Homo sapiens: one gene and its partner. The protein of the gene in region 2 interacts with the protein of the main gene of each other region in a pairwise test. Each region holds a gene or a part of one and is shown on either strand. Other genes may lie near its edges. The genes, in order: INPP5K and GOLT1B.

Region 1 (10,279 bases), on a different chromosome or scaffold from region 2:
TACTTATATATTCTTTGAGACTCAGTTGCTTTCCTTGTAAACAGGCAATAATAACACTGTTTACCTAACGAGGACATGGTAGGAACTGATACAGGCAAAGCCTTGGCGCACACCTGCACGCCAATCACAATGAGCTGTTATTTGGAAATAGGTGCGTGCCTCCTCCTTAGCGGGAGTCTGCCTTCCTCACCGTGCCATCCTTTTTCCTCTTGCTGGCAAGGATGACCATGAATCCTGAGGTACGATGGGCTTGAGGAAAGTACTGTGGGCTACAGACTCAGAGATCAGTCTCAGCCCCAGCTCTGCCACTCACTGGCTGAGCTACCTGGGGAAGCCCTTGAACTTCTCCAAAGCTCTCTACCCTTTCTGACCCTGCCAACTCCAGCCCAGATCCAGCTTTTGCAACAAACTTCAGTCTCCTGGAGGTCTCTCTGCCATAGGGCTGGGAGAAGGGGACGCCTGGCCGTAGGGCCTGCCAGCAGCTCTCTTCCTGCTGGTAAGTTTTTAAAGAGGATTTTTTTTTTTGGAGACAGGGTTGCCCAGCTGGAGTGCAGTGAGTCAATCTCAGCTCACTGCAGCCTTTAACTCCTGGGCTCAAGTGATCCTCCTGCCTCAGCTTTCCTGAGTAGCTGGGACTACAGGCACATGCCACTACACCCAGCTAATTTTTAAATTTTCGTAGAGACGGGGTCTAACTATGTTGCCCAGGCAGGTCTTGAACTCCTGGCTTCAAGCACCCCCTCCCCACCCAAGGCCCTACCCTGTCCTTACAGCTCCCACCAGGACTCTTGTTTCCAATGGATGGCTGCAGAGACTGGCAGTCTCCCTGCAGCTGTTGATCTGGGCCGGCCATCCTGCTGCAGCCTGGCCTCTTACCTCCTTTCCTGCCTGCTCTGTTGCCCAGGGCGGGTCCCTTCCCCAGCGTCCACTGCCTCCTCTTCTGTGGACGGCCCTGCTCACGACCCTACCCTGTCTTGCTCCACACTGCTGAATCGGCTCACTCTTTCCCCCTTTCCTTGACAAGGATATTTTGGCTTTGCTGTAACACTTCCAGAACCAAGCTTGAGTTCTACCTCTTGTCTTGGTCTGGCTGTGGAGATATTTCTTCCCTGGCTAAATCCCAAAGCCCTGGGCTGCCCTGCCGGTACCTCCCGCCTCCCTCACAGAGACACTCCAGCTAGGAGGAATGAACAAGCTGCTCCCGCTGGAACAAAGACCCTCATGACATGTAAGGGGCTCTTCTTTTCTTCAAAGAGATTAGGTTCCTTGCCCCAAAATGAGTCAGGGACATGTTGCCAGTGGTTCTTTCTCAGGTTTTGGTGGTTATTTGGCCCCTTCTCAGCTTCTTAGAAAGGTTTTTAGTAAATCTATCACGGGAAGACATGAATCTATTTATTTTATTATTATTTTTTTGAGACGGAGTCTCGCTCTGTCACCCAGGCTGGAGTGCAGCGGTGAGATCTCGGCTCACGGCAACCTCTGCCTCTTGGGTTCAAGCAATTCTCCTGCCTCAGCTTCCTGAGTAGCTGGGATTACAGGTGCGCGCTACCATGCCCAGCTAATTTTTGAATTTTTAGTAGAGATGGGGTTTTACCATGTTGGTCAGGCTGGTCTCAAACTCCTGACCTTCAGTGATCCACCTGCCTCGGCCCTCCCAAAGTGCTGGGATTACAGGTGTGAGCCACCGCGCCCAGCCGGCATGAATCGAAAAGTCACAATAGCCGTTCTCTCCCATGGTTACTGGGTGACGGCCTCCTTCAGTCCTCAGCCTCATGAGGTGTGTGCTCTTCTCATCCACACCTTATAGCTGACAAAATCAAGGCCTAAACGCTTTGGCTAAAATAAGACAGAGCCGTGCTTCTAACTACCAGACTCATGATCTCTACACTGATCCTGATGAAACTCTCTACCTACTACTTCACCTTCTCACACAAGACCTGACCCATTCACAGGCTGGGGCAGGCGTCCTTAATACCAGTAACTGGCTGGGCCAAGCTTTCTGCCCCGTTTGGGGACCAGAAGGTCTGGGGTTTCCCGAAGCTGAAGTGCAGTCCCTCCTAGGTCAGGAGGCAGCTGCTCCACCCTCTCCTCTGGTTCTATCTGTAACACCCCCACCCCCTACACACCTCTCCTGCCCTTGCTGGCACTGGCTTTCCTCCCACTCTCTCGAGATCTGGGACGGCTCCCCGAGTCAGCGCCTCATGAAGTGGACAGGAGGTGCCACTCTGGAGAGGGGATGACTAGACCAATTCCTGCCCCCCCTAACACTTCTATTCTGAGACAGTTCCCATGCCAGCAGGGTCAGTGTAACCTGACTTCCTAGACCTTCTGGCCCCCCACTCCCTCCTCACCTGGTGTCATAGTCGTTGGAGTTCCTATCAAACTTGTAGGTGGGCGGGAAGAGTAGGCGGCCCTCCTGGAACTCCCGGAGCAGCGGGTCATGTTTCTTGGCAATGCTGAGCTGCAGACAAAGTCATAGTCCCCGTCTCCCAGTAGTCTCGACCCAGTGGCCCAGTACCACACTCCATTCAAGGGATCAGCACATGCCGTCACAAATGGGGCAAGAGTCAAGCAATGCCACTCCAATTCCTCACTGCCCCAGTGACTACTCAGCAGCCCACTCCCACCAGAAAGCAGGCGAATCCTTTCGGAAACATTACCAAGGCCCAGGGGAGGCAGCTGTCTGCCGTTTCCCAGTCCTTAGACTGCAGGGACCCAACTTGGAATTCCATCTCTAGGGGAGATCACTAGCAGACATGTGTCAGAGGGGAACCTGGGGAAGCCAGGGTTCTCCAAAGGGGCACCTCACCCTCCAAGAGGGAAACGAGGCTGGGGATGGGAAAGACGACAGGGACACGATGGGCTGACGCATGATGGTACCTGGTGCAAAGCCCTTCTGGTTCCCTATTCTTCTTCTTTTTTTTTTTTTGAGATGGAGTTTTGCTTTTGTTGCCCAGGCTGGAGTGCAATGGCGCTATCTCTGCTCACTGCAACCTCTGCCTCCCGGGTTCAAGCGATTCCCCTACCTCAGCCTCCCGAGTAGCTGGGATTACAGGCACGTGCCACCACGCCCGGCGAATTTTTTTTTGTATTTTTAGTAGAGATGAGGTTTCTCCAAGTTGGTCAGGCTGGTCTCAAACCCCCGACCTCAGGTGATCCACCCACCTCGGCCTCCCAGAGTGCTGGAATTACAGGCATAAGCCACCGTGCCCGGCCCCTATTCTTCTTTTTTAAATAATTCATTTCATGCTTTGTATCTGACTCTCTATTCTAAAGCACATCCAGGGTCTGTTACCCTGGCTTTTCCATGTGAAGATCAGGCGTGGCTGCCTCACCCCTGGATGCGAAGCCCTGCTAGACAGCCTCCCCCACCAGACCTGGGCAAAAGAAAACAGCAGCGAGGGCATCTAGCAACACTCTGCACAGCTCACATGGCCCCCACCGTGGGCTCAGATCACCCCCTGGGACCCTCCCCTCACTGGATACCTGGTCCTTCTCCCACAGGCCACCGTAGCACCGATTTTTAATGGATTCCCGAACAAAGTGCAACCCAAAGTCCTCGATCCGAAAGTTCATGTCTCCAAACCAGATAATGAGGCTTCAGAAAAAAAGGAGGGCAGCCTGAGGATTTGTGATGAAGTCGGGGAAGGGAGATCACCAGGTGGCTCAGCCTGCTCAACCCAAGGGCTGCTGGGGCACAGAAAACCTGAGGGGCAAGTGAGACGCCAGGGCACGCGTGGGTCCTCTGGAACTGTTCTCATGGCTCCTAAACCACCATTCAAACCGGAGAGACCTACCAAAGAGCCTGCTCTGGCAAACACAGAGCAGGCTGTGGCCCTTCCTTCCTCTCCTTAACTGGTCACGAGGAAAGGCTGAGAAGCCCTCCTGGTGACCTCAGGAGCCACAAGGTCCTTGACCTGTTCCCAAGTGTTCAGGGTTTCTAAGCAAGACAGACGGGCTGGAGGAAGGGGACCCCAGGCAGGCAAAGCAAGGGGAGACAGCAGATGGGCACCAGGGAAGGGTCAGGGAGAGGGTGGGAGCCAGAACACTGACGACACTGGCTGGGGGATCCGTGATGGAGCAGAGGATGCTGGCTTGGGTTAGCGTGGGGCAGAGGGCGGGGAACAGTCTGCAGACCCAGGCTCACTCGTGGCGGTCAGCTGGGGCAGAGGGCGGGGAACAGTCTGCAGACCCAGGCTCACTCGTGGGGGTCAGCGTGGGGCAGAGGGCGGGGAACGGTCTGCAGACCCAGGCTCACTCGTGGCGGTCAGCGTGGGGCAGAGGGCGGGGAACGGTCTGCAGACCCAGGCTCACTCGTGGGGGTCAGCGTGGGGCAGAGGGCGGGGAACAGTCTGCAGACCCAGGCTCACTCGTGGCGGTCAGCGTGGGGCAGAGGGCGGGGAACAGTCTGCAGACCCAGGCTCACTCGTGGGGGTCAGCGTGGGGCAGAGGGCGGGGAGCGGTCTGCAGACCCAGGCTCACTCGTGGGGGTTAGTGGGGGTTAGCGTGGGGCAGAGGGCGGGGAACGGTCTGCCAGACCCAGGCTCACTCGTGGTCCAGGATGTTTGGGATGTCTCGCCCCTCACAATTCTGCATCTCCAGGATCCGGTCAAAGTGCTCCAGCCGCTGGTAATTGTTGGAAATGTGGGGAGGCAGGTGGCAGTTGATGATGCTGACATAGTAGCCATAAAGCTTCAGGCAGATGTTGACTCCACCTTTGTTCCCCTGGTAGAACAGGTCAACAGAAGAGTGGGAAGCTACTCGGGTTGGACACACCCCTCTTTCCACATCCTGGACCTGAGGGCAGACAGTCTCACTTCCTGCAGGGTCTCCTAGGGACAGTAACTAAGCTTCCCAGGGTGATCTCTCCATGCACAGAGCCCAGCTCGCCTCGCCTGGCCTCAGGGATAGCAAGCCCACTCTGAGGCAAAAGAACAAACATGCATTGGGCTGGACAGAGGACCAAGATTCCTTTCACTTCCTTTTTCTTTTGCCCAGCTCCACAGTTCCCAGCCCTTCCCAGCTCACGACTCAGACAATAGCTCAGTCCTTACCCAGTACCCAAACAGGCCAGTGGGGGTGGATTTAGTAGACAGAATCTGGATATAGGGCAAATGCTGATACTTGGCAAAGACCAGTAAGAGGATCCCCTGCATACGGACATGGGAGACCTGCAGGAGAGAGAGGGCAAAGGTCGCTCATTAAACCACACAGGCCAAGTGCATCCCTTCCAAGCTCCGTGCTAGGGACTCTAGAGAGCCCTCAGCTACATGCAGTGTCCTGCTCCAGGGTCTACGATATCCCAGTTTGAATCTCAGAGTTTCAAGCCTTTCCATTCTTCTTCTCAGCTGCCAAATGATACATTCTGGGGGCTGAGGTTTTCGATTCTGCGCCTAGGCGTGCGGGTGGCGGGAAGAGAAGATAAGCTAAGGATACTGGCTTTGAAGTTAGATCTGGGTTCAAACCCTGGCTCTGATTCTTAGTATTTGACATTGAGGCAGTTTCTCAGTGTATTTTCTCATTGATAAAGTAGGAATCCATCTCATAGATGCTGTGGGGATTATCTGAAAGCTATTATTTTTTGGTTTCAGCATTCTTTTTTTTTTGAGACGGAGTCTCGCTCTGTCGCCCAGGCTGGAGTGCAATGGCGTGGTCTCGGCTCACTGCAACCTCCACCTCCTGGGTTCAGGTGATTCTCCTGTCTCAGCTTCCCAAGTAGCTGGGATTACAGGCGCCCACCACCAGGTCTTGTATTTTTAGTAGAGATGGGGTTTCACCGTGTTGGCCAGGCTGGTCTTGAACTCTCGACCTCAGGTGATCTGCCTGCCTTGGCCTCTCAAAGTGCTGGGATTGTAGGCGTGAGCCACCGCGCCCGGCCAAGCATTCTTAAAAGGAAGGAACATAAGAGGTTTCCAGGATACTGGGAAATGCTCTTCTTTATCCCCTTCCCTTCCTCCCTCTCTCCTTGGAAATGTTCTTTATCCACCAGCTGCCCCCATTCCTCCCTTTTTACTTAGAGACAGGATTTCGCTCTGTCTACCAGGCTGGAGTGCAGTGGTGCAATCACGGCTCGCTGCAGCCTTGACATCCTGGGCTCAGGCAATCCTCCCACCTCAGCCTCCTGAGTAGCTAGGACCACAGGTGTGCACCAACATGCCCGGCTATTTTTGTTTGTTTTGTAGAGACAGGGTCTTGCCATATTGCCCAGGGTGGTCTTGAACTCCTGGGTTCAAGCAATCTCCCTGCCTCTATAATCCCAAAGTGCTGGGATTACAGGCATGAGCCACTGTACTCGGCCTGCTCTTTATCTAGATGTGGCTGATGGTAACATGGGTATATGCAAAAACCCATCAAAGTGTACACTGAATTTCTGCATGCTTTTCTGTGTACATTATAGCTCAGTGAAAAAAAAATAAGAAAATGCTCCCCCCAAACCCCATAACTATATACTGCGTGCAGCTGGGTGTCCATGAAGGCAACGCCCATGGAATGCCAGTGGGTAAGGACACATGTGCACAGGCTAGGGAGAATAGCTAACATCTGCTCAAGTGCCTCCTCTCTCATTTACTCCTGCCAAGCCTGTAAGGAATCACCGTCCCTGTTTTGTAGTTGAGGAACTAAGATTTAGGGAGGCTAAGGAACCAGTAGGGCTACCTGTATTGTAAAACAACATCAAAGGGCTAGGACTGCCAAGATCCCTACTATCTGCAGCTGCAAAAGGTGGGGTGGGAATGGGCCGCAGCCAGTAGCTCTCCCTCTCAGGTTCAGGCTGTCTACCACCGGCACCCGAGGAGCCGTTTCCGGAGAATGAAGTGTGGAGGCCAAGGAGGAAATCCCCGGGTGGGGAGCGTGTACTGGGGCCTTCCAGGAATTATGAAACTTGATCCTGCAGGCCACGAGCCCTGGCATAGCGGAGTCGAAGCAGGGGGAACCTCAAACCCAGCACTGGGTAAGGGAGGCATCAGAACTTCAGGTGGGCCAGAGGTTGCTACAGGTGTGTCCTCAAGCCTACTTCCTCCCCAGTCTTCTCTCTCCTACACCCAAGCACACGTGCCAACAGGGATGGAGGACGGGCTGGACCATGAGGGGCTGACTCCCAGGGTCAGGATTGAAGCAAGGGGACTGATAAAGACTCAGGAAAAGTTTCAGGCTTAATCCCCACCCACAAAGCAGCTTTAGGCCACTGGGTTCCACCACAAAGACACTGGCTCGCTTTGTGAAGGAGCAGCAGGGAAGTGGGGGCGGGGAGGGTGGGGTCGGGGCAGGACAGAGTTAGACTGGGAGAAAGGGTGGGGCTGTGGGAAAAGCAGGAGAGTTCTAGGGAAAGTTCTAGTTGGAGGAAATGAAGTAGGAGGAGCGAAGAAAGGACTAGCAGGAGGTGGCTGGGGGCCCTGGAGCAGTGGAAGGGGGTCAGCCCTTCTCAGTCTATAGCTGGCAAATGCACGGAGCTCACCCATCCACCCTGATTCTTGGCTGGGGAAAGAAGGGCATTCATTTTGGGTGCCAGGCCCTCAGTCTGGCCTCCCAATCTCAGTAGGCCACATGGGTAGAAAGGGCTGTGTCTCTGCCACAAGTTGAGCTAATTTCCTTGGCTCAATTCCATCCTACCAATCCTTTGCCAGTCAGCCGAGAAGCAAGGAGGCCTGCAGTCTTGGGAAGGGAGTGGCGGGTGAGAGAGAAGTGGTTGTGTCCTCTGTAAGGATCTAGCTCCCTATCTACAGAAGGAGGCCTCTGGGTTTGATGTGGAGGGAACCAAGGACTCGGGCTGGTGTTTTCTATCCTCAGCAGGAGTTCTAAACCTTAGATTCTTTCCTCCCCATTCTGCTCCCCCTCCAAAGGACACACAGCTCTTGCCTCAGTACCCCCAGGCAAACTAGGCTGACAGAATCCATTCTGAAGAACAAGAGTCATCCAGGAAGGGGAAAGAGGGAATTCTGGTATTTCTAAGCAGCTGTATACCAGGTGCTGTGAATGGGAGTGTGTTTCATTCCTCAGGTGTGCAGGGCAGAACCAAGGTGAAGGTGAAGATCTGGCAACCCAGGGCCTTCCTGTGGACTCTCCTACTGTCTAAAGACACCCCAGAGTATACTGGTCTCTCAGACTAAGAAAGCCGCCCAAAGTACCCACCACACCTGACTCCCCTCTCCTAACCTCTGGACCCCCAGAATCTGAAGTGCACGTCCCGTATGACCTGAGGATACCCTATGACACCAGCAGGCTAGCCACGCCTAAGATCTGTCAGTCTTAGAGTTCACCAGCATAGCAATAAGGTATTAGTAGTTAAGAACTTGGGTTATGAAGTTTGAGAGATCTGGATCCAAATCCCAGATAGCGCATGTGGCTTCTGAGCCATGGTTTTCTCTGTAAAATATCTCTATTTCAACAGACTTGTTAAGATTTTAAAATAACATATATACTATAAAGAGCTACTTATGATGTGTAACAACAAGTAAGCACTTGATAAATGACAGCCGTATGATTACACTCAGAGACTTCAGGATGGGCATTTGAGTAGAGACTGGTGGCTGGGGCAGCGGCCAGCACTGAGGTGATGACAAGCCCTGCTGCACCTCCCCTCAGAATCTTCCCAAGCTGAAACATATCCAGGTGTTAACCCAACCCCTGGAGACTCCAGCTCCCTCAGAAAGGCGAAGGCAGGCAGGGGCCCCGGGGTCCAGGTGGAAGGGAGGTTTAGCCCTTTAAACAAATGGGAAACAGCATGAAAGGCTGAGCAGGAGTAAGAGGAACACATCAGACCCAACAAGCAGGGGTCAGTGGAGATGTGAAAACACAGTTGTCAAGTGCCAATGAACTGGCAAGTTACCTTGATGAAGCTCAGAGGGGAAAGCACATCCATGAGGAAACTGCTCCACGAGTCATTAAAGGCAGCATCGGAAAGGAGGCTTATGATCCCAGAGTTCAATTCCTGCAAACTGACCATGCCAGCTCAGAGGCTTGGCCCCTGGCCTCCAGGCTACTTCCCCTGCCACAGATATTTGATACCATCTTCACGGACTTTCAAGGCCTGAGTTCTGATGGCCATGAGGTCTCCCTCCCCTGCCTGCTGATCTCCAGCCCCCTTTGCCGTTGCTGACCCGGGACCAGAGACATGGGACTGTCCCTGAAGCAGGCTGAAAGCTCCCAGCCTTCAGACTCCAGAGCGGAGGAGGGCAGGTCACAGTGCTTCCCACAGGGAAACCTGGGACTGGTCAGGGATGGGCGAAGGAGCCTGCAGATACCTACCCAATAACATATATGTCAAGATTGAGGTTCCGGTTGTTCAGCTGAAGCAGGTCACTGAGATCTAGAGGGGGCGCTGCCGAAGCCACGTTCCAAGTCACGACGTGTATGCTGCGGAAGGGATGCAGAGGGAAGTCATGGAGGAAGGAGGATAAGATAGTGCACGGGGTCGGCTGGGCGCAGAGGCTCACACGTTGTCATCACAGCACTTTGGGCGGCCGAGGTGGGCGGATCACCTGAGGTCGGGAGTTCGAGACAAGCCTGGCCAACATGGTGAAACCCCGTCTCTACTAAAAGTACAAAAATTAGCCCAGCATGGTGGCAGGCGCCTGTAATCCCAGCTACTCTGGAGGCTGAGGCAGGAGAATTGCTTGAACCCACGAGGCAGAGGTTGCAGTGAGCCGACATTGTGCCACTGCACTCCAGCCTGGGTGACAGAGTGAGACTCTGTCTCAAAAGAAAAAAAAAAAAGATAGTGCACGGGGTCTAGGCCTGCTTATGTCACTGCAATCTGCCACACTCATGATGGGAAATGTGGGTTTCTGTGCTGGTGGAGGGAATGGGGATACTGAACCATCAGCTGTCCGTCCTCACCTTTCTCTGCTGAAGCAAGAAATCCCCACCCCGGACTGGGTCCTCCATGCTGGCTCACAGCCACCCACACCCGGCAGCACTGGTGCTGCTGATATAGCAGAGTCGCCAAAGGGAGCCCAAGAATTTCAGGTCAGGCTAGCGAAGGGTTAGGGGGCTGAACTGCCAGGAATGTATTAATTCCATCAGCTCCTCCAGCCACCCACACCCCTCTGTCATCATCTATGGCTCAGTCGGCAACTTCTGATCCCTACTTCTCACCCCAAGTGTTCCTAAGACCACCAGGAAGATCCTAGGGATTCAGATTTCACCTTGTGATAGGCCTCAGCACTACAAGGGCAGAGGAATTTAAAAAATAAAAGAGATAACACCACCATATTCCCTTCCTCTCTCCTCCCTAGCAGATCCCTGGAGCAAGCCAATTTTGCCAAGCACTTCAGCGAGACTT
Region 2 (8,177 bases):
AATTCTATTAAATAACTATTTAGTAGTTAGGATTAAACATCGGCAGCTTTGTTAGTTGAAGATGACTAATTTCTATCATTTCACAAATAACCTTGATGATTACATAAAAATTCTGAGATGTTTTTAGAAAGGAAGGTATATGGAAAGACACCTACTATGTACTGAGAATTTACCACGAATTAGGCCTTATGAAGTGCTTCACATACCTTATATATAACTTAATACTTCCAATACTACTGGAATGCAGGTATAATTACATCTTTTTAAAGATGGAGGAAATTGAAGTTTAGAGAGTTGACTTAAGTTGCCTAAAGCCACACTTCTAGATAAGCATTCGAACCAAGGTCTTTTGAATCCAAAGCTCATGTGCTTAACCATTAATGCCATACCTCTTCCCACAGAATTTTTATTTTTTAGGTTAAAGGTGTTTGGTTACATGAAACTCAAGGACACTGGAGTATTCTGAACTTCTGGGGGACGCATCTTTTAGGGGATTCAAGTTTAATATTAGCTTGTTATCTAACATAGCCAAGTAGAACTATTAAAAATTAACTGCGGTCAAAAAGGCCAATCTCTGAGTATGGTTTACCGTGTTATGAAGTGTTTATACAAAAATTTTATAATTTCTTTAACAAAATTGTGAGGTAAAAGGTAGCACTGGTCCTATGGTTCATATGTGCAACCATGGACCTAGAGGTAATTCAGTAACTTGTTCTTGATCATAGAAGCAGCAAAAATGTGTGTGTGGGTGCTGGTGGTATGGAGGCAGGTACAACAGTCTGTGAAGTCAGCATTCAACCAGTCTTCTCACTCCACAGACAATGGTCCTACAACTACAACATGGGAACCAAAATATTCCACTACTTTATCCAGTACAGTCCAGCGGGAGACATTGCCCAAAACATCTTTGCCACAACTGGTACTGGCAATGACATTGCCAAGTAGCTCCTGATCCACACTGGTCAAAAGTCTCAAATTGGCCTCATTGTGCCTTTTTCTCACCTCCAGGATCCCCCTTTTCCCTATCCGTATGCATTCATAAGCCCTCTGGCTATCAAAAGCCTTGCATAGAGCTGCCTTCTTCCCATCGGAATCATATCCAGTAAAACAAACTTATCTTCCTTCACTCCTCCCACATGTTTAAAAAACTGTCCACAAGTTAAAAAAAATATAAAAACAATTTAATAAAACGAATCTGTCTAACATAAGGAGCATACTGTGGAAATTGTATAAGGAAAGACACGCATAATCTAATGGCAAACACTGTTAGCATTTTGATATCTTATTCACAATTTTTTAAAAGCAGCATTGTCTCTCTTACCATACCCTTTGAAAAACAGAAGTCAAGCAAGAATTCAATTGAACATTAACTGTACTGGAGAATGCAATTATCACACTAGGCTTTTAGACAATGTGATGAAATGAAGATTTAGAGGCAGCATGCCCCTCCTCCGCCCCTCTGAATAAGTCTTGTCTTTTTTGGGGCGGTGAGGAAAGTCCTAGAATGCCTTAAAATAATCATGAATTTCCATTTATTCTACTCTGAGCAGTGCTTGGCCACTCTCTAAAAACCAAAATCCCAGAATAATCCTGACAAATCACTTGAATGATGGCCAATCCCTGCAGTTAAACACACTCACACACAAACACAATTTGAAATCCAAAATGCATTTGGTTCACTAATCGTTTTATGTTTCAATCCACTGTTTCACCTAAAACATGTGACAAGTGAACAGCAAAGAGTAAAATTTCATTGCCCTCACAAAATTTAATGAAGTGAGGAGAATGCTTCTCAGGGAGAATGCCCATAGTCCAAACCCACTCTCTTGTTTTTATAAAGCAGGCACTCATCACTATATTAAGTCTTCAAAAATATAATTTCTATGCACAGATTATTCTCAGATCTCAAATAAAGTTTATATCAAGTCTTCTTAGGTGATAGTGGGGTACAGTGCAAAAGGTTTCTGAGCCAGCACACCTGGGATCAAGTTTTGTTTCTGTCACTTTTTCTTTGACCATGCACTCAATTTCTTTTGTGCCTCATTTAACTTATGAAAGGGGCATGCTTCTGTGAGCCTTACAGGGCTCTTATAAGAATTATGCATAATGATTCACATGAAAGCACATGGTTAACTGAAAGAAAATACCTTTATATAATTGCCAGTAATTATTATTACACTAGATTCCTATCCCCTCAAGACTACACTTTTATTTTCTTTGATCAGAACAGGCCAGGCCAATGGACCAAAGTGGGCGGCAACCTTGGGGCAGGTGGCCCCAAGAGGCAGCCCCAGTCCAGCCTCAGGAGGGAAGACAGCCTGATTGGGGGGTGGCAGTGTGTGTAGGAGGCCTTAGAAGCTCTGTGAAGTTGGTCTGCCATGACTTGAATCTCCACAAGAAGACTCCACTTTAAAATAGGGCATTTTAAATAAACTTCTATTTTTCACTTCAATTCACTGTTTAAGTCTTAAAATATTGAAAATCTGAGTTAACTGGAGTGAAATGAAAGGCGTGGCAGATAAAGCAAAGTGAGACAAAAAGAGACTCTTATGAACATCAAAATATGAGGTACAGAGCTTGGGCAGACATAAATACAAAAATTATTAATATTAACAAAAAGCAGTAGGAAAGTGGAAATATTATAATGAAAGAAAAGGAAACCGATATCAATGCTAGCTTTAGAGATGAAATAGGCCTGGAGAACTCTGTGGCAGGCAGAGAGCGATGCTAAAATAATAAAACAAGCCACAAAGCACAATATACAATACTAACGAAATATATCCTTTAATGGCACACAAAGTGGCTTTTCTCTACTGCTTGAAACTTTAGCAGGTAGAAAAGTGAGAATGTTTCAAGAGACTTCTAAAAGGTTGCTTACAGTACTGGCAAAAAGCGAATATTCAAAATGCCACATTTAAGCGTAAGGACATTTTCAAAAAGAGCCTACTGTAGGTGACATTTAAAATACCGCCTCCCAAATAACCAGCCAGCCAGGGACTTGTAGAGGACCCGAAGTGTGTCATGCGCATAAACGATCCCGAGAGTGGGCCGCGGGCACCACGCAAACTTTCTCTTGTGGCAAGCCCCTAGAACAAAGCGCCCATCTCACTGGGGATGAGGAGATCAGCGCGACCCTGGAATGAGACAGACTCTGGGCTAAAGCTCCCCTCCCAACATAGGGCGTCCCACCCTGCCCCACAGACTCTTCTCCCAGGTCAGGTCCGCCAGTCCAAGTCTAGCCCCGGCATCCCGAAGGCAGCCCCTTAGGGTCCCAGCAGCCCTAGCTCTGTCTCGCAGGCCACCGCCCCCAACCCAGAGCTTCATTCATTGACCCCGGCGGAGGGGCGAGACCCAGCCGGGCGATGGGTGTGCGCGGCTCGAGGCGGGGGCCCCGGAGCAGGTGCTTACTCTGCGTGTCCGTTAAGGAGATCATGGCTGCAGTGGTGGGGACAGCGGCGACAGCACCTCGGAAAGCCCAGGGTGGGAAGCTGAGTCGGGAGAAATGAAGCCGGGAAACAGCCCAGGCGAGAGCCGCCACGTCTTCCGGAAACACGCAGCCACCCTCACTGCCGCTTTAAGAGCGCTTCCTATTGGCGAAACCTGCTTCCAATCTCAACCAATAACTCGTAATGTTGTTCGGTGACGCGCATGGTGACCACACCCCTTGACCAATTAGAGAAGGGAGTTATCTGTGATTGGCTGAACGGACCGACCCGGAAGGGTGGATGCTCTCAGCTGGCTGGCGGGAAGATTTTACTCCCGAGTAGCGGAAAGATCTGCTCGAGGCCTGGGTGCTTTGGTGTCGGAGATCCGAGAGTCGGAGATCGGAGAGTCGGACACAGGACAGTCGGACACCGGACAGTCAAACACCGGAGAGTTAGACCGGGCTTCTCGGTGGGGAGAGGCTCTGGGATAACTACTGTTACAGCTTTGAAGGGTCAAGGGTGTGCGCTTTTTGTTTCATCCTTCCCTTTCCTGCTGCAGGGCGAGGCCGGTCTGTAGCGGATCACTTCCTTTCGCCCACACATTGGCGGAGGAGAAACCGGAAAGTTAATCACTGCCCTGCTCTGAGAACTCGGGCCTTTAGGGGCACGTTCGCCTGCTGACCGGTCTTCTGATCTCCCCATTCTTTTCCATGCAGGAGGATTGGCCACCAAAGCCTGTTTATTAGCAGCTGCCATTTGTTGGTAAATACTACTGGGGATGCTTCTTCCACCCCCTGCTTCACAGTAGCGGAAGGGCGGGCGTTATTAATATTAAATTACTATTGCCTCTAAATGCAGGTGGCGGGGAGAGAGAGGATTTAGCCTATGGTATCTCAGTGGCGTTTCCTCCAACATTGATGACTGGCTGTCACCCTGTAACATTCTTCCTGTGGATGCCTAGCTTATACTGCTGAGTGACAGACCTGCTGTAGTTCAATTTCTGGATACATTTTATGTTGAGATATCTTTTGCTGTTAAATCACATCATTTTGGGAAGGAGCAGTCTTTTAACCGCATAATCAAAGGAGTCATTTAAAATCGTGGGGGAGAATTGGATATAGACTGTGTCTTTTCATAAGGGTAGAAACAGCCCCTGCTACCTTAGCAAACCTGAGCCCTCACTACATCAAGGCATTTTCCTGGGCTGTGCGGATACAAAGGTGAAGAGATTGAACCCCAGCCCTGCTAAAGGACCTTACAGTCTATGGAAGGAATGTTACATTTTCATTACGTGAAGAGATGTTTGTATAGATCAAGAATTAGAAATCCTTGGTTTACTCTCCTATTTAGCCTTCTTTTAATGGTGTGGTTATTCCACATTCTTTAGCAAGGCAAAAAAGAGTCAGCCTATCTTTCCGGCCTAGTGGTGGCTTCAGAATTCTGTGTAGAAAGGGCGTAAGGTCAGCAGTCTAAGGATAGGTGTTGCAGAAGTGACTTTTGGAGAGCATCTTAGTTTTAGAAAATGTCCATATTAGAGAGATAGAAGAGGTGTTTTTAGGATTATGGGGAATTTAAAGTTTCTACTCTCCAGCCCCATTTTCCACTTGTCCATATGCATGCTTAGGTTTTAGTCATTCATAGATACTTAGAAATCATTACAAACCATTTTCCCCTCCCCCCACCTCTAACTTAGAAAATCTAGCTTTTCTGTAGAATACCAGTTTCTCTTTTAAGATTGGGCTTATATTGTAATTCTTTAACGCAAGGGCTCAATAAAATGTTAGATGATTAATTTTATTATTTATGTTGATGTATTTTGCTTAATCTGGTACATTTGAATCTATCCAACTTATTTATAAGATTGCCATCCTCCCAGTTTTACAGGTAGGGAAAGAGGCTTGGAGGAACAGCATATGCAACTTTGCCTAACATAGTAATTTAGTCACATAGCAATTGGTGCTAGACCTGTTGAATGTTTGCTGTTTTTTGTTACATCACTTTGTATCTTGTGGATGTTTGCTGAGTGTCATTGCTACTGTATTTGTCATGTATACGTTTATGTGACTTTGGACACTTCTCTGAAATCTAGAGAGTTAGTCGTTCTGAGTGTTGTGGGTTATTAAGCTGAAATATAGAGTTTTCCATAAAAAATTAGTGTCAAAAGAACCATGTGGTTCTTATTTGAAAGGTCACTGCAATATATAATTTACTTTCTAACATTTTCCGTGCTTAGGAATGACAGATTACTGTTGAGTGAACATCATTAATAGTACTATTTTTAAAAACTTGTTGTCACTGTTGTGCTTTTATTTTTAGAAAGAAATTTGGATTATTTTAGAAACAAATTTGGAAAGAAAAAGAATGGCGTCCGTTTCAGGTTAGTAGCAATGATTACATTTTCTTCTTCCTTCTGTTCTATTTCTGTTTGTATGATATTTGAAAAAGTTTGTTTTAAAAATTCTGATTATAGAAATGATTTTTTTCAGCTTTTTTATTGAAGTAAAATACACATTACAAACTTTGCCATGCTAACCATTATTAAGTGAATAATTCATTGGCATTAAATGCATTTAGACTGTTGTGCAGTCGTCACCACTATCCATCTCCAGAGCTTTTTCATCTATCCAGACTAAAATTCTATACTCATTAATCCGTAACTTTCCATTACTTCTCTTCTCCTAATCCCTGATAGCCACTATTCTACTTTCTGTTTCTTGACTATTTTAGGTACCTCATATAAATGGAATCATATAACATTTGTCCTTTTGTGTCTAATTTTTACCTTATTTGTGTCCAAATAAAGGCAATAGCGGAATCATGCTTTTGCCTATTTCTCTTACTGCTGAGTATACACTGACCCCTTCCCCAAAAGAGCAGGTACAAATTATCTTTATTCGTCTTTGGGTGATGCTCATTTCTCTTCTTGCTGAATCATGTCCTCCTTGGTAATACTGTAATGTATCGGAGAGGGACCAAATAAAAGGAAAAACCCAAACTTGGTTTATATACAAATTTTAAAAAGCAAGAAAGACTTATAGCTATTACAGTTCTTGTTTTTCAATTGGTCATGTGATCATAGTTTGTACTTTATAACTGCCTTCTTCAACTACCCATTCTGTATTCCTTGGTTCTCAGTTGGTAATGGGTCTTTGCTTGGTGGGGACTACTTGCCTTAGTAGTTTCCTATATTTGGTTATTATAGTTTTCAATTAACTTTAATCACAAGGTAAGGGAATACTGAGAGGTGCACTAGAGGATCTTCTGCTTTCCAGACATACTCTTCCTTATCCCTATAGTGTAGTAGCTATCTGATTTCCCCTTAATAGTCAGGATCACTTACCCCAGCAAGTATAGTAATCGCCTTCTTTGCCTGTTCATTTGTTGGCATGAGGAACCCAAAGTGGCCAAGTGGCAGTCAACTTCCAGTTTAATGGAACTATTGCTTTTTCCCCTGGTACAAGCATTTCTTTCTTGGTAACCAAGACCTCTAGGCCAGCAAGAGTCCGATGTTTCAAGGATGGGAAGCAAAAATTTCACTAGCGGATCACTAAGGGTAATAGAAGAGCCACTCCCATTTCCACCGCTGATTCCCGTGAATCGTGGCAATGGGAGAAACAGCACTATTCACTGATGTATAGCATGCCATATCCTGGAGGCTACTAGTCCAGCCCTTAAAGTGCTGATACCCAGCTGGCAGCATAATTGAGTCTGCAAAATGCCACTCCATTATTTTCTCAGGCTAGCTGCTGCAGGTTGTTGGTGAACATAGTTAGACCAGTTAATATCTTGAACATTAGCCTTCTGTTGTGCTTTGTTTGCTGTAAATGAGTTCTTTGGTCAGAAGTAATTTGGTGGGGAATACGATGACAATCAGTAGGAATTCCGTGAATTCCTGGATGGTGGACATGATAGAGCACTGCAGGCAGGTATGGTAAATTCATATCCGGAGTAAGCATCTGTATCAGTGAGAACAAAGTGCTGCCTCTTTCATTATAGACGGTTCCAATGCGGTCACTTTGCCATCAAGCATCTGTCTGTCCCCACAGAGAATGGTGCCTCCATTGGAACTCAAGGTTGGTATGAGCTGTTTGCAGGTTGAGCACTTAGCTCTGGATGTAGCCAGATGGGTCTTCGTGAGTGGCAGTCCATGTTGCAGAAGGCACTTTGTTCTTGACTTCGTTGTGCAAGGACAAGTGTGGTCAATGTCCAGGTCATCTTGTCTACCTGATTAATTATGATTATACTTTGTCGAAGTTGTTTTTAATGAGCATTCACATTGGACACAAATACCTTCACACTCTGACCATTCAGAGAGGTCTATACATATATCTCTTCCTCAGACCTCATTGCCACCAGTTTTCCTATTTGCTACCTTCCAAGTTGCTAACCATCCTGCCAATCATTAACCATTGCTTATAATAGTGTGGATGTATTCCTCTGGCAAAATGAATAACTATGTGGACTGCTTACTGCTGACTGGGAGAATTTTCCATCTCCAATGTTTTTCAGGATCACTCTGGAGAGATGCTAGAGTGCTTTAGTTGTTCACTTTCAGGTAGTGACAATATATCATGCAGAATCTTTTGTAAATTAGGTCTGCATTTTTTTTTCCCTTAGTAACACTGAATCCCACCATGAGGTTATAGCTACAGGTTGAGGAGGAGGAGGCAAAGGGGAGCATGGTGCATGAGCATTCAGACTTCTTGTTCACGCCTTCACTTAGAACCTGCTCACTTTGGCACATACCACTTC

Evidence for each region.
Region 1: the proteins of GOLT1B (region 2) and INPP5K interact in binary tests that used the Homo sapiens proteins (3 or more experiments, as listed by UniProt).

What each region holds. Positions count from the first base shown.
Region 1 is NC_000017.11:1,504,629-1,514,907, forward strand, and holds part of INPP5K (inositol polyphosphate 5-phosphatase K), read right to left. Parts: intron 9,352-10,279; coding exon 9,244-9,351; intron 8,934-9,243; coding exon 8,825-8,933; intron 5,172-8,824; coding exon 5,055-5,171; intron 4,726-5,054; coding exon 4,550-4,725; intron 3,599-4,549; coding exon 3,487-3,598; intron 2,462-3,486; coding exon 2,352-2,461; intron 1-2,351. UniProt on the Homo sapiens protein: Inositol 5-phosphatase which acts on inositol 1,4,5-trisphosphate, inositol 1,3,4,5-tetrakisphosphate, phosphatidylinositol 4,5-bisphosphate and phosphatidylinositol 3,4,5-trisphosphate.
Region 2 is NC_000012.12:21,497,180-21,505,356, reverse strand, and holds the start of GOLT1B (vesicle transport protein GOT1B), read right to left. Parts: upstream 3,569-8,177; 5' UTR 3,434-3,568; coding exon 3,409-3,433; intron 1-3,408. Other genes in the region: RECQL (ATP-dependent DNA helicase Q1), read left to right, coding at 5,787-5,802. UniProt on the Homo sapiens protein: May be involved in fusion of ER-derived transport vesicles with the Golgi complex.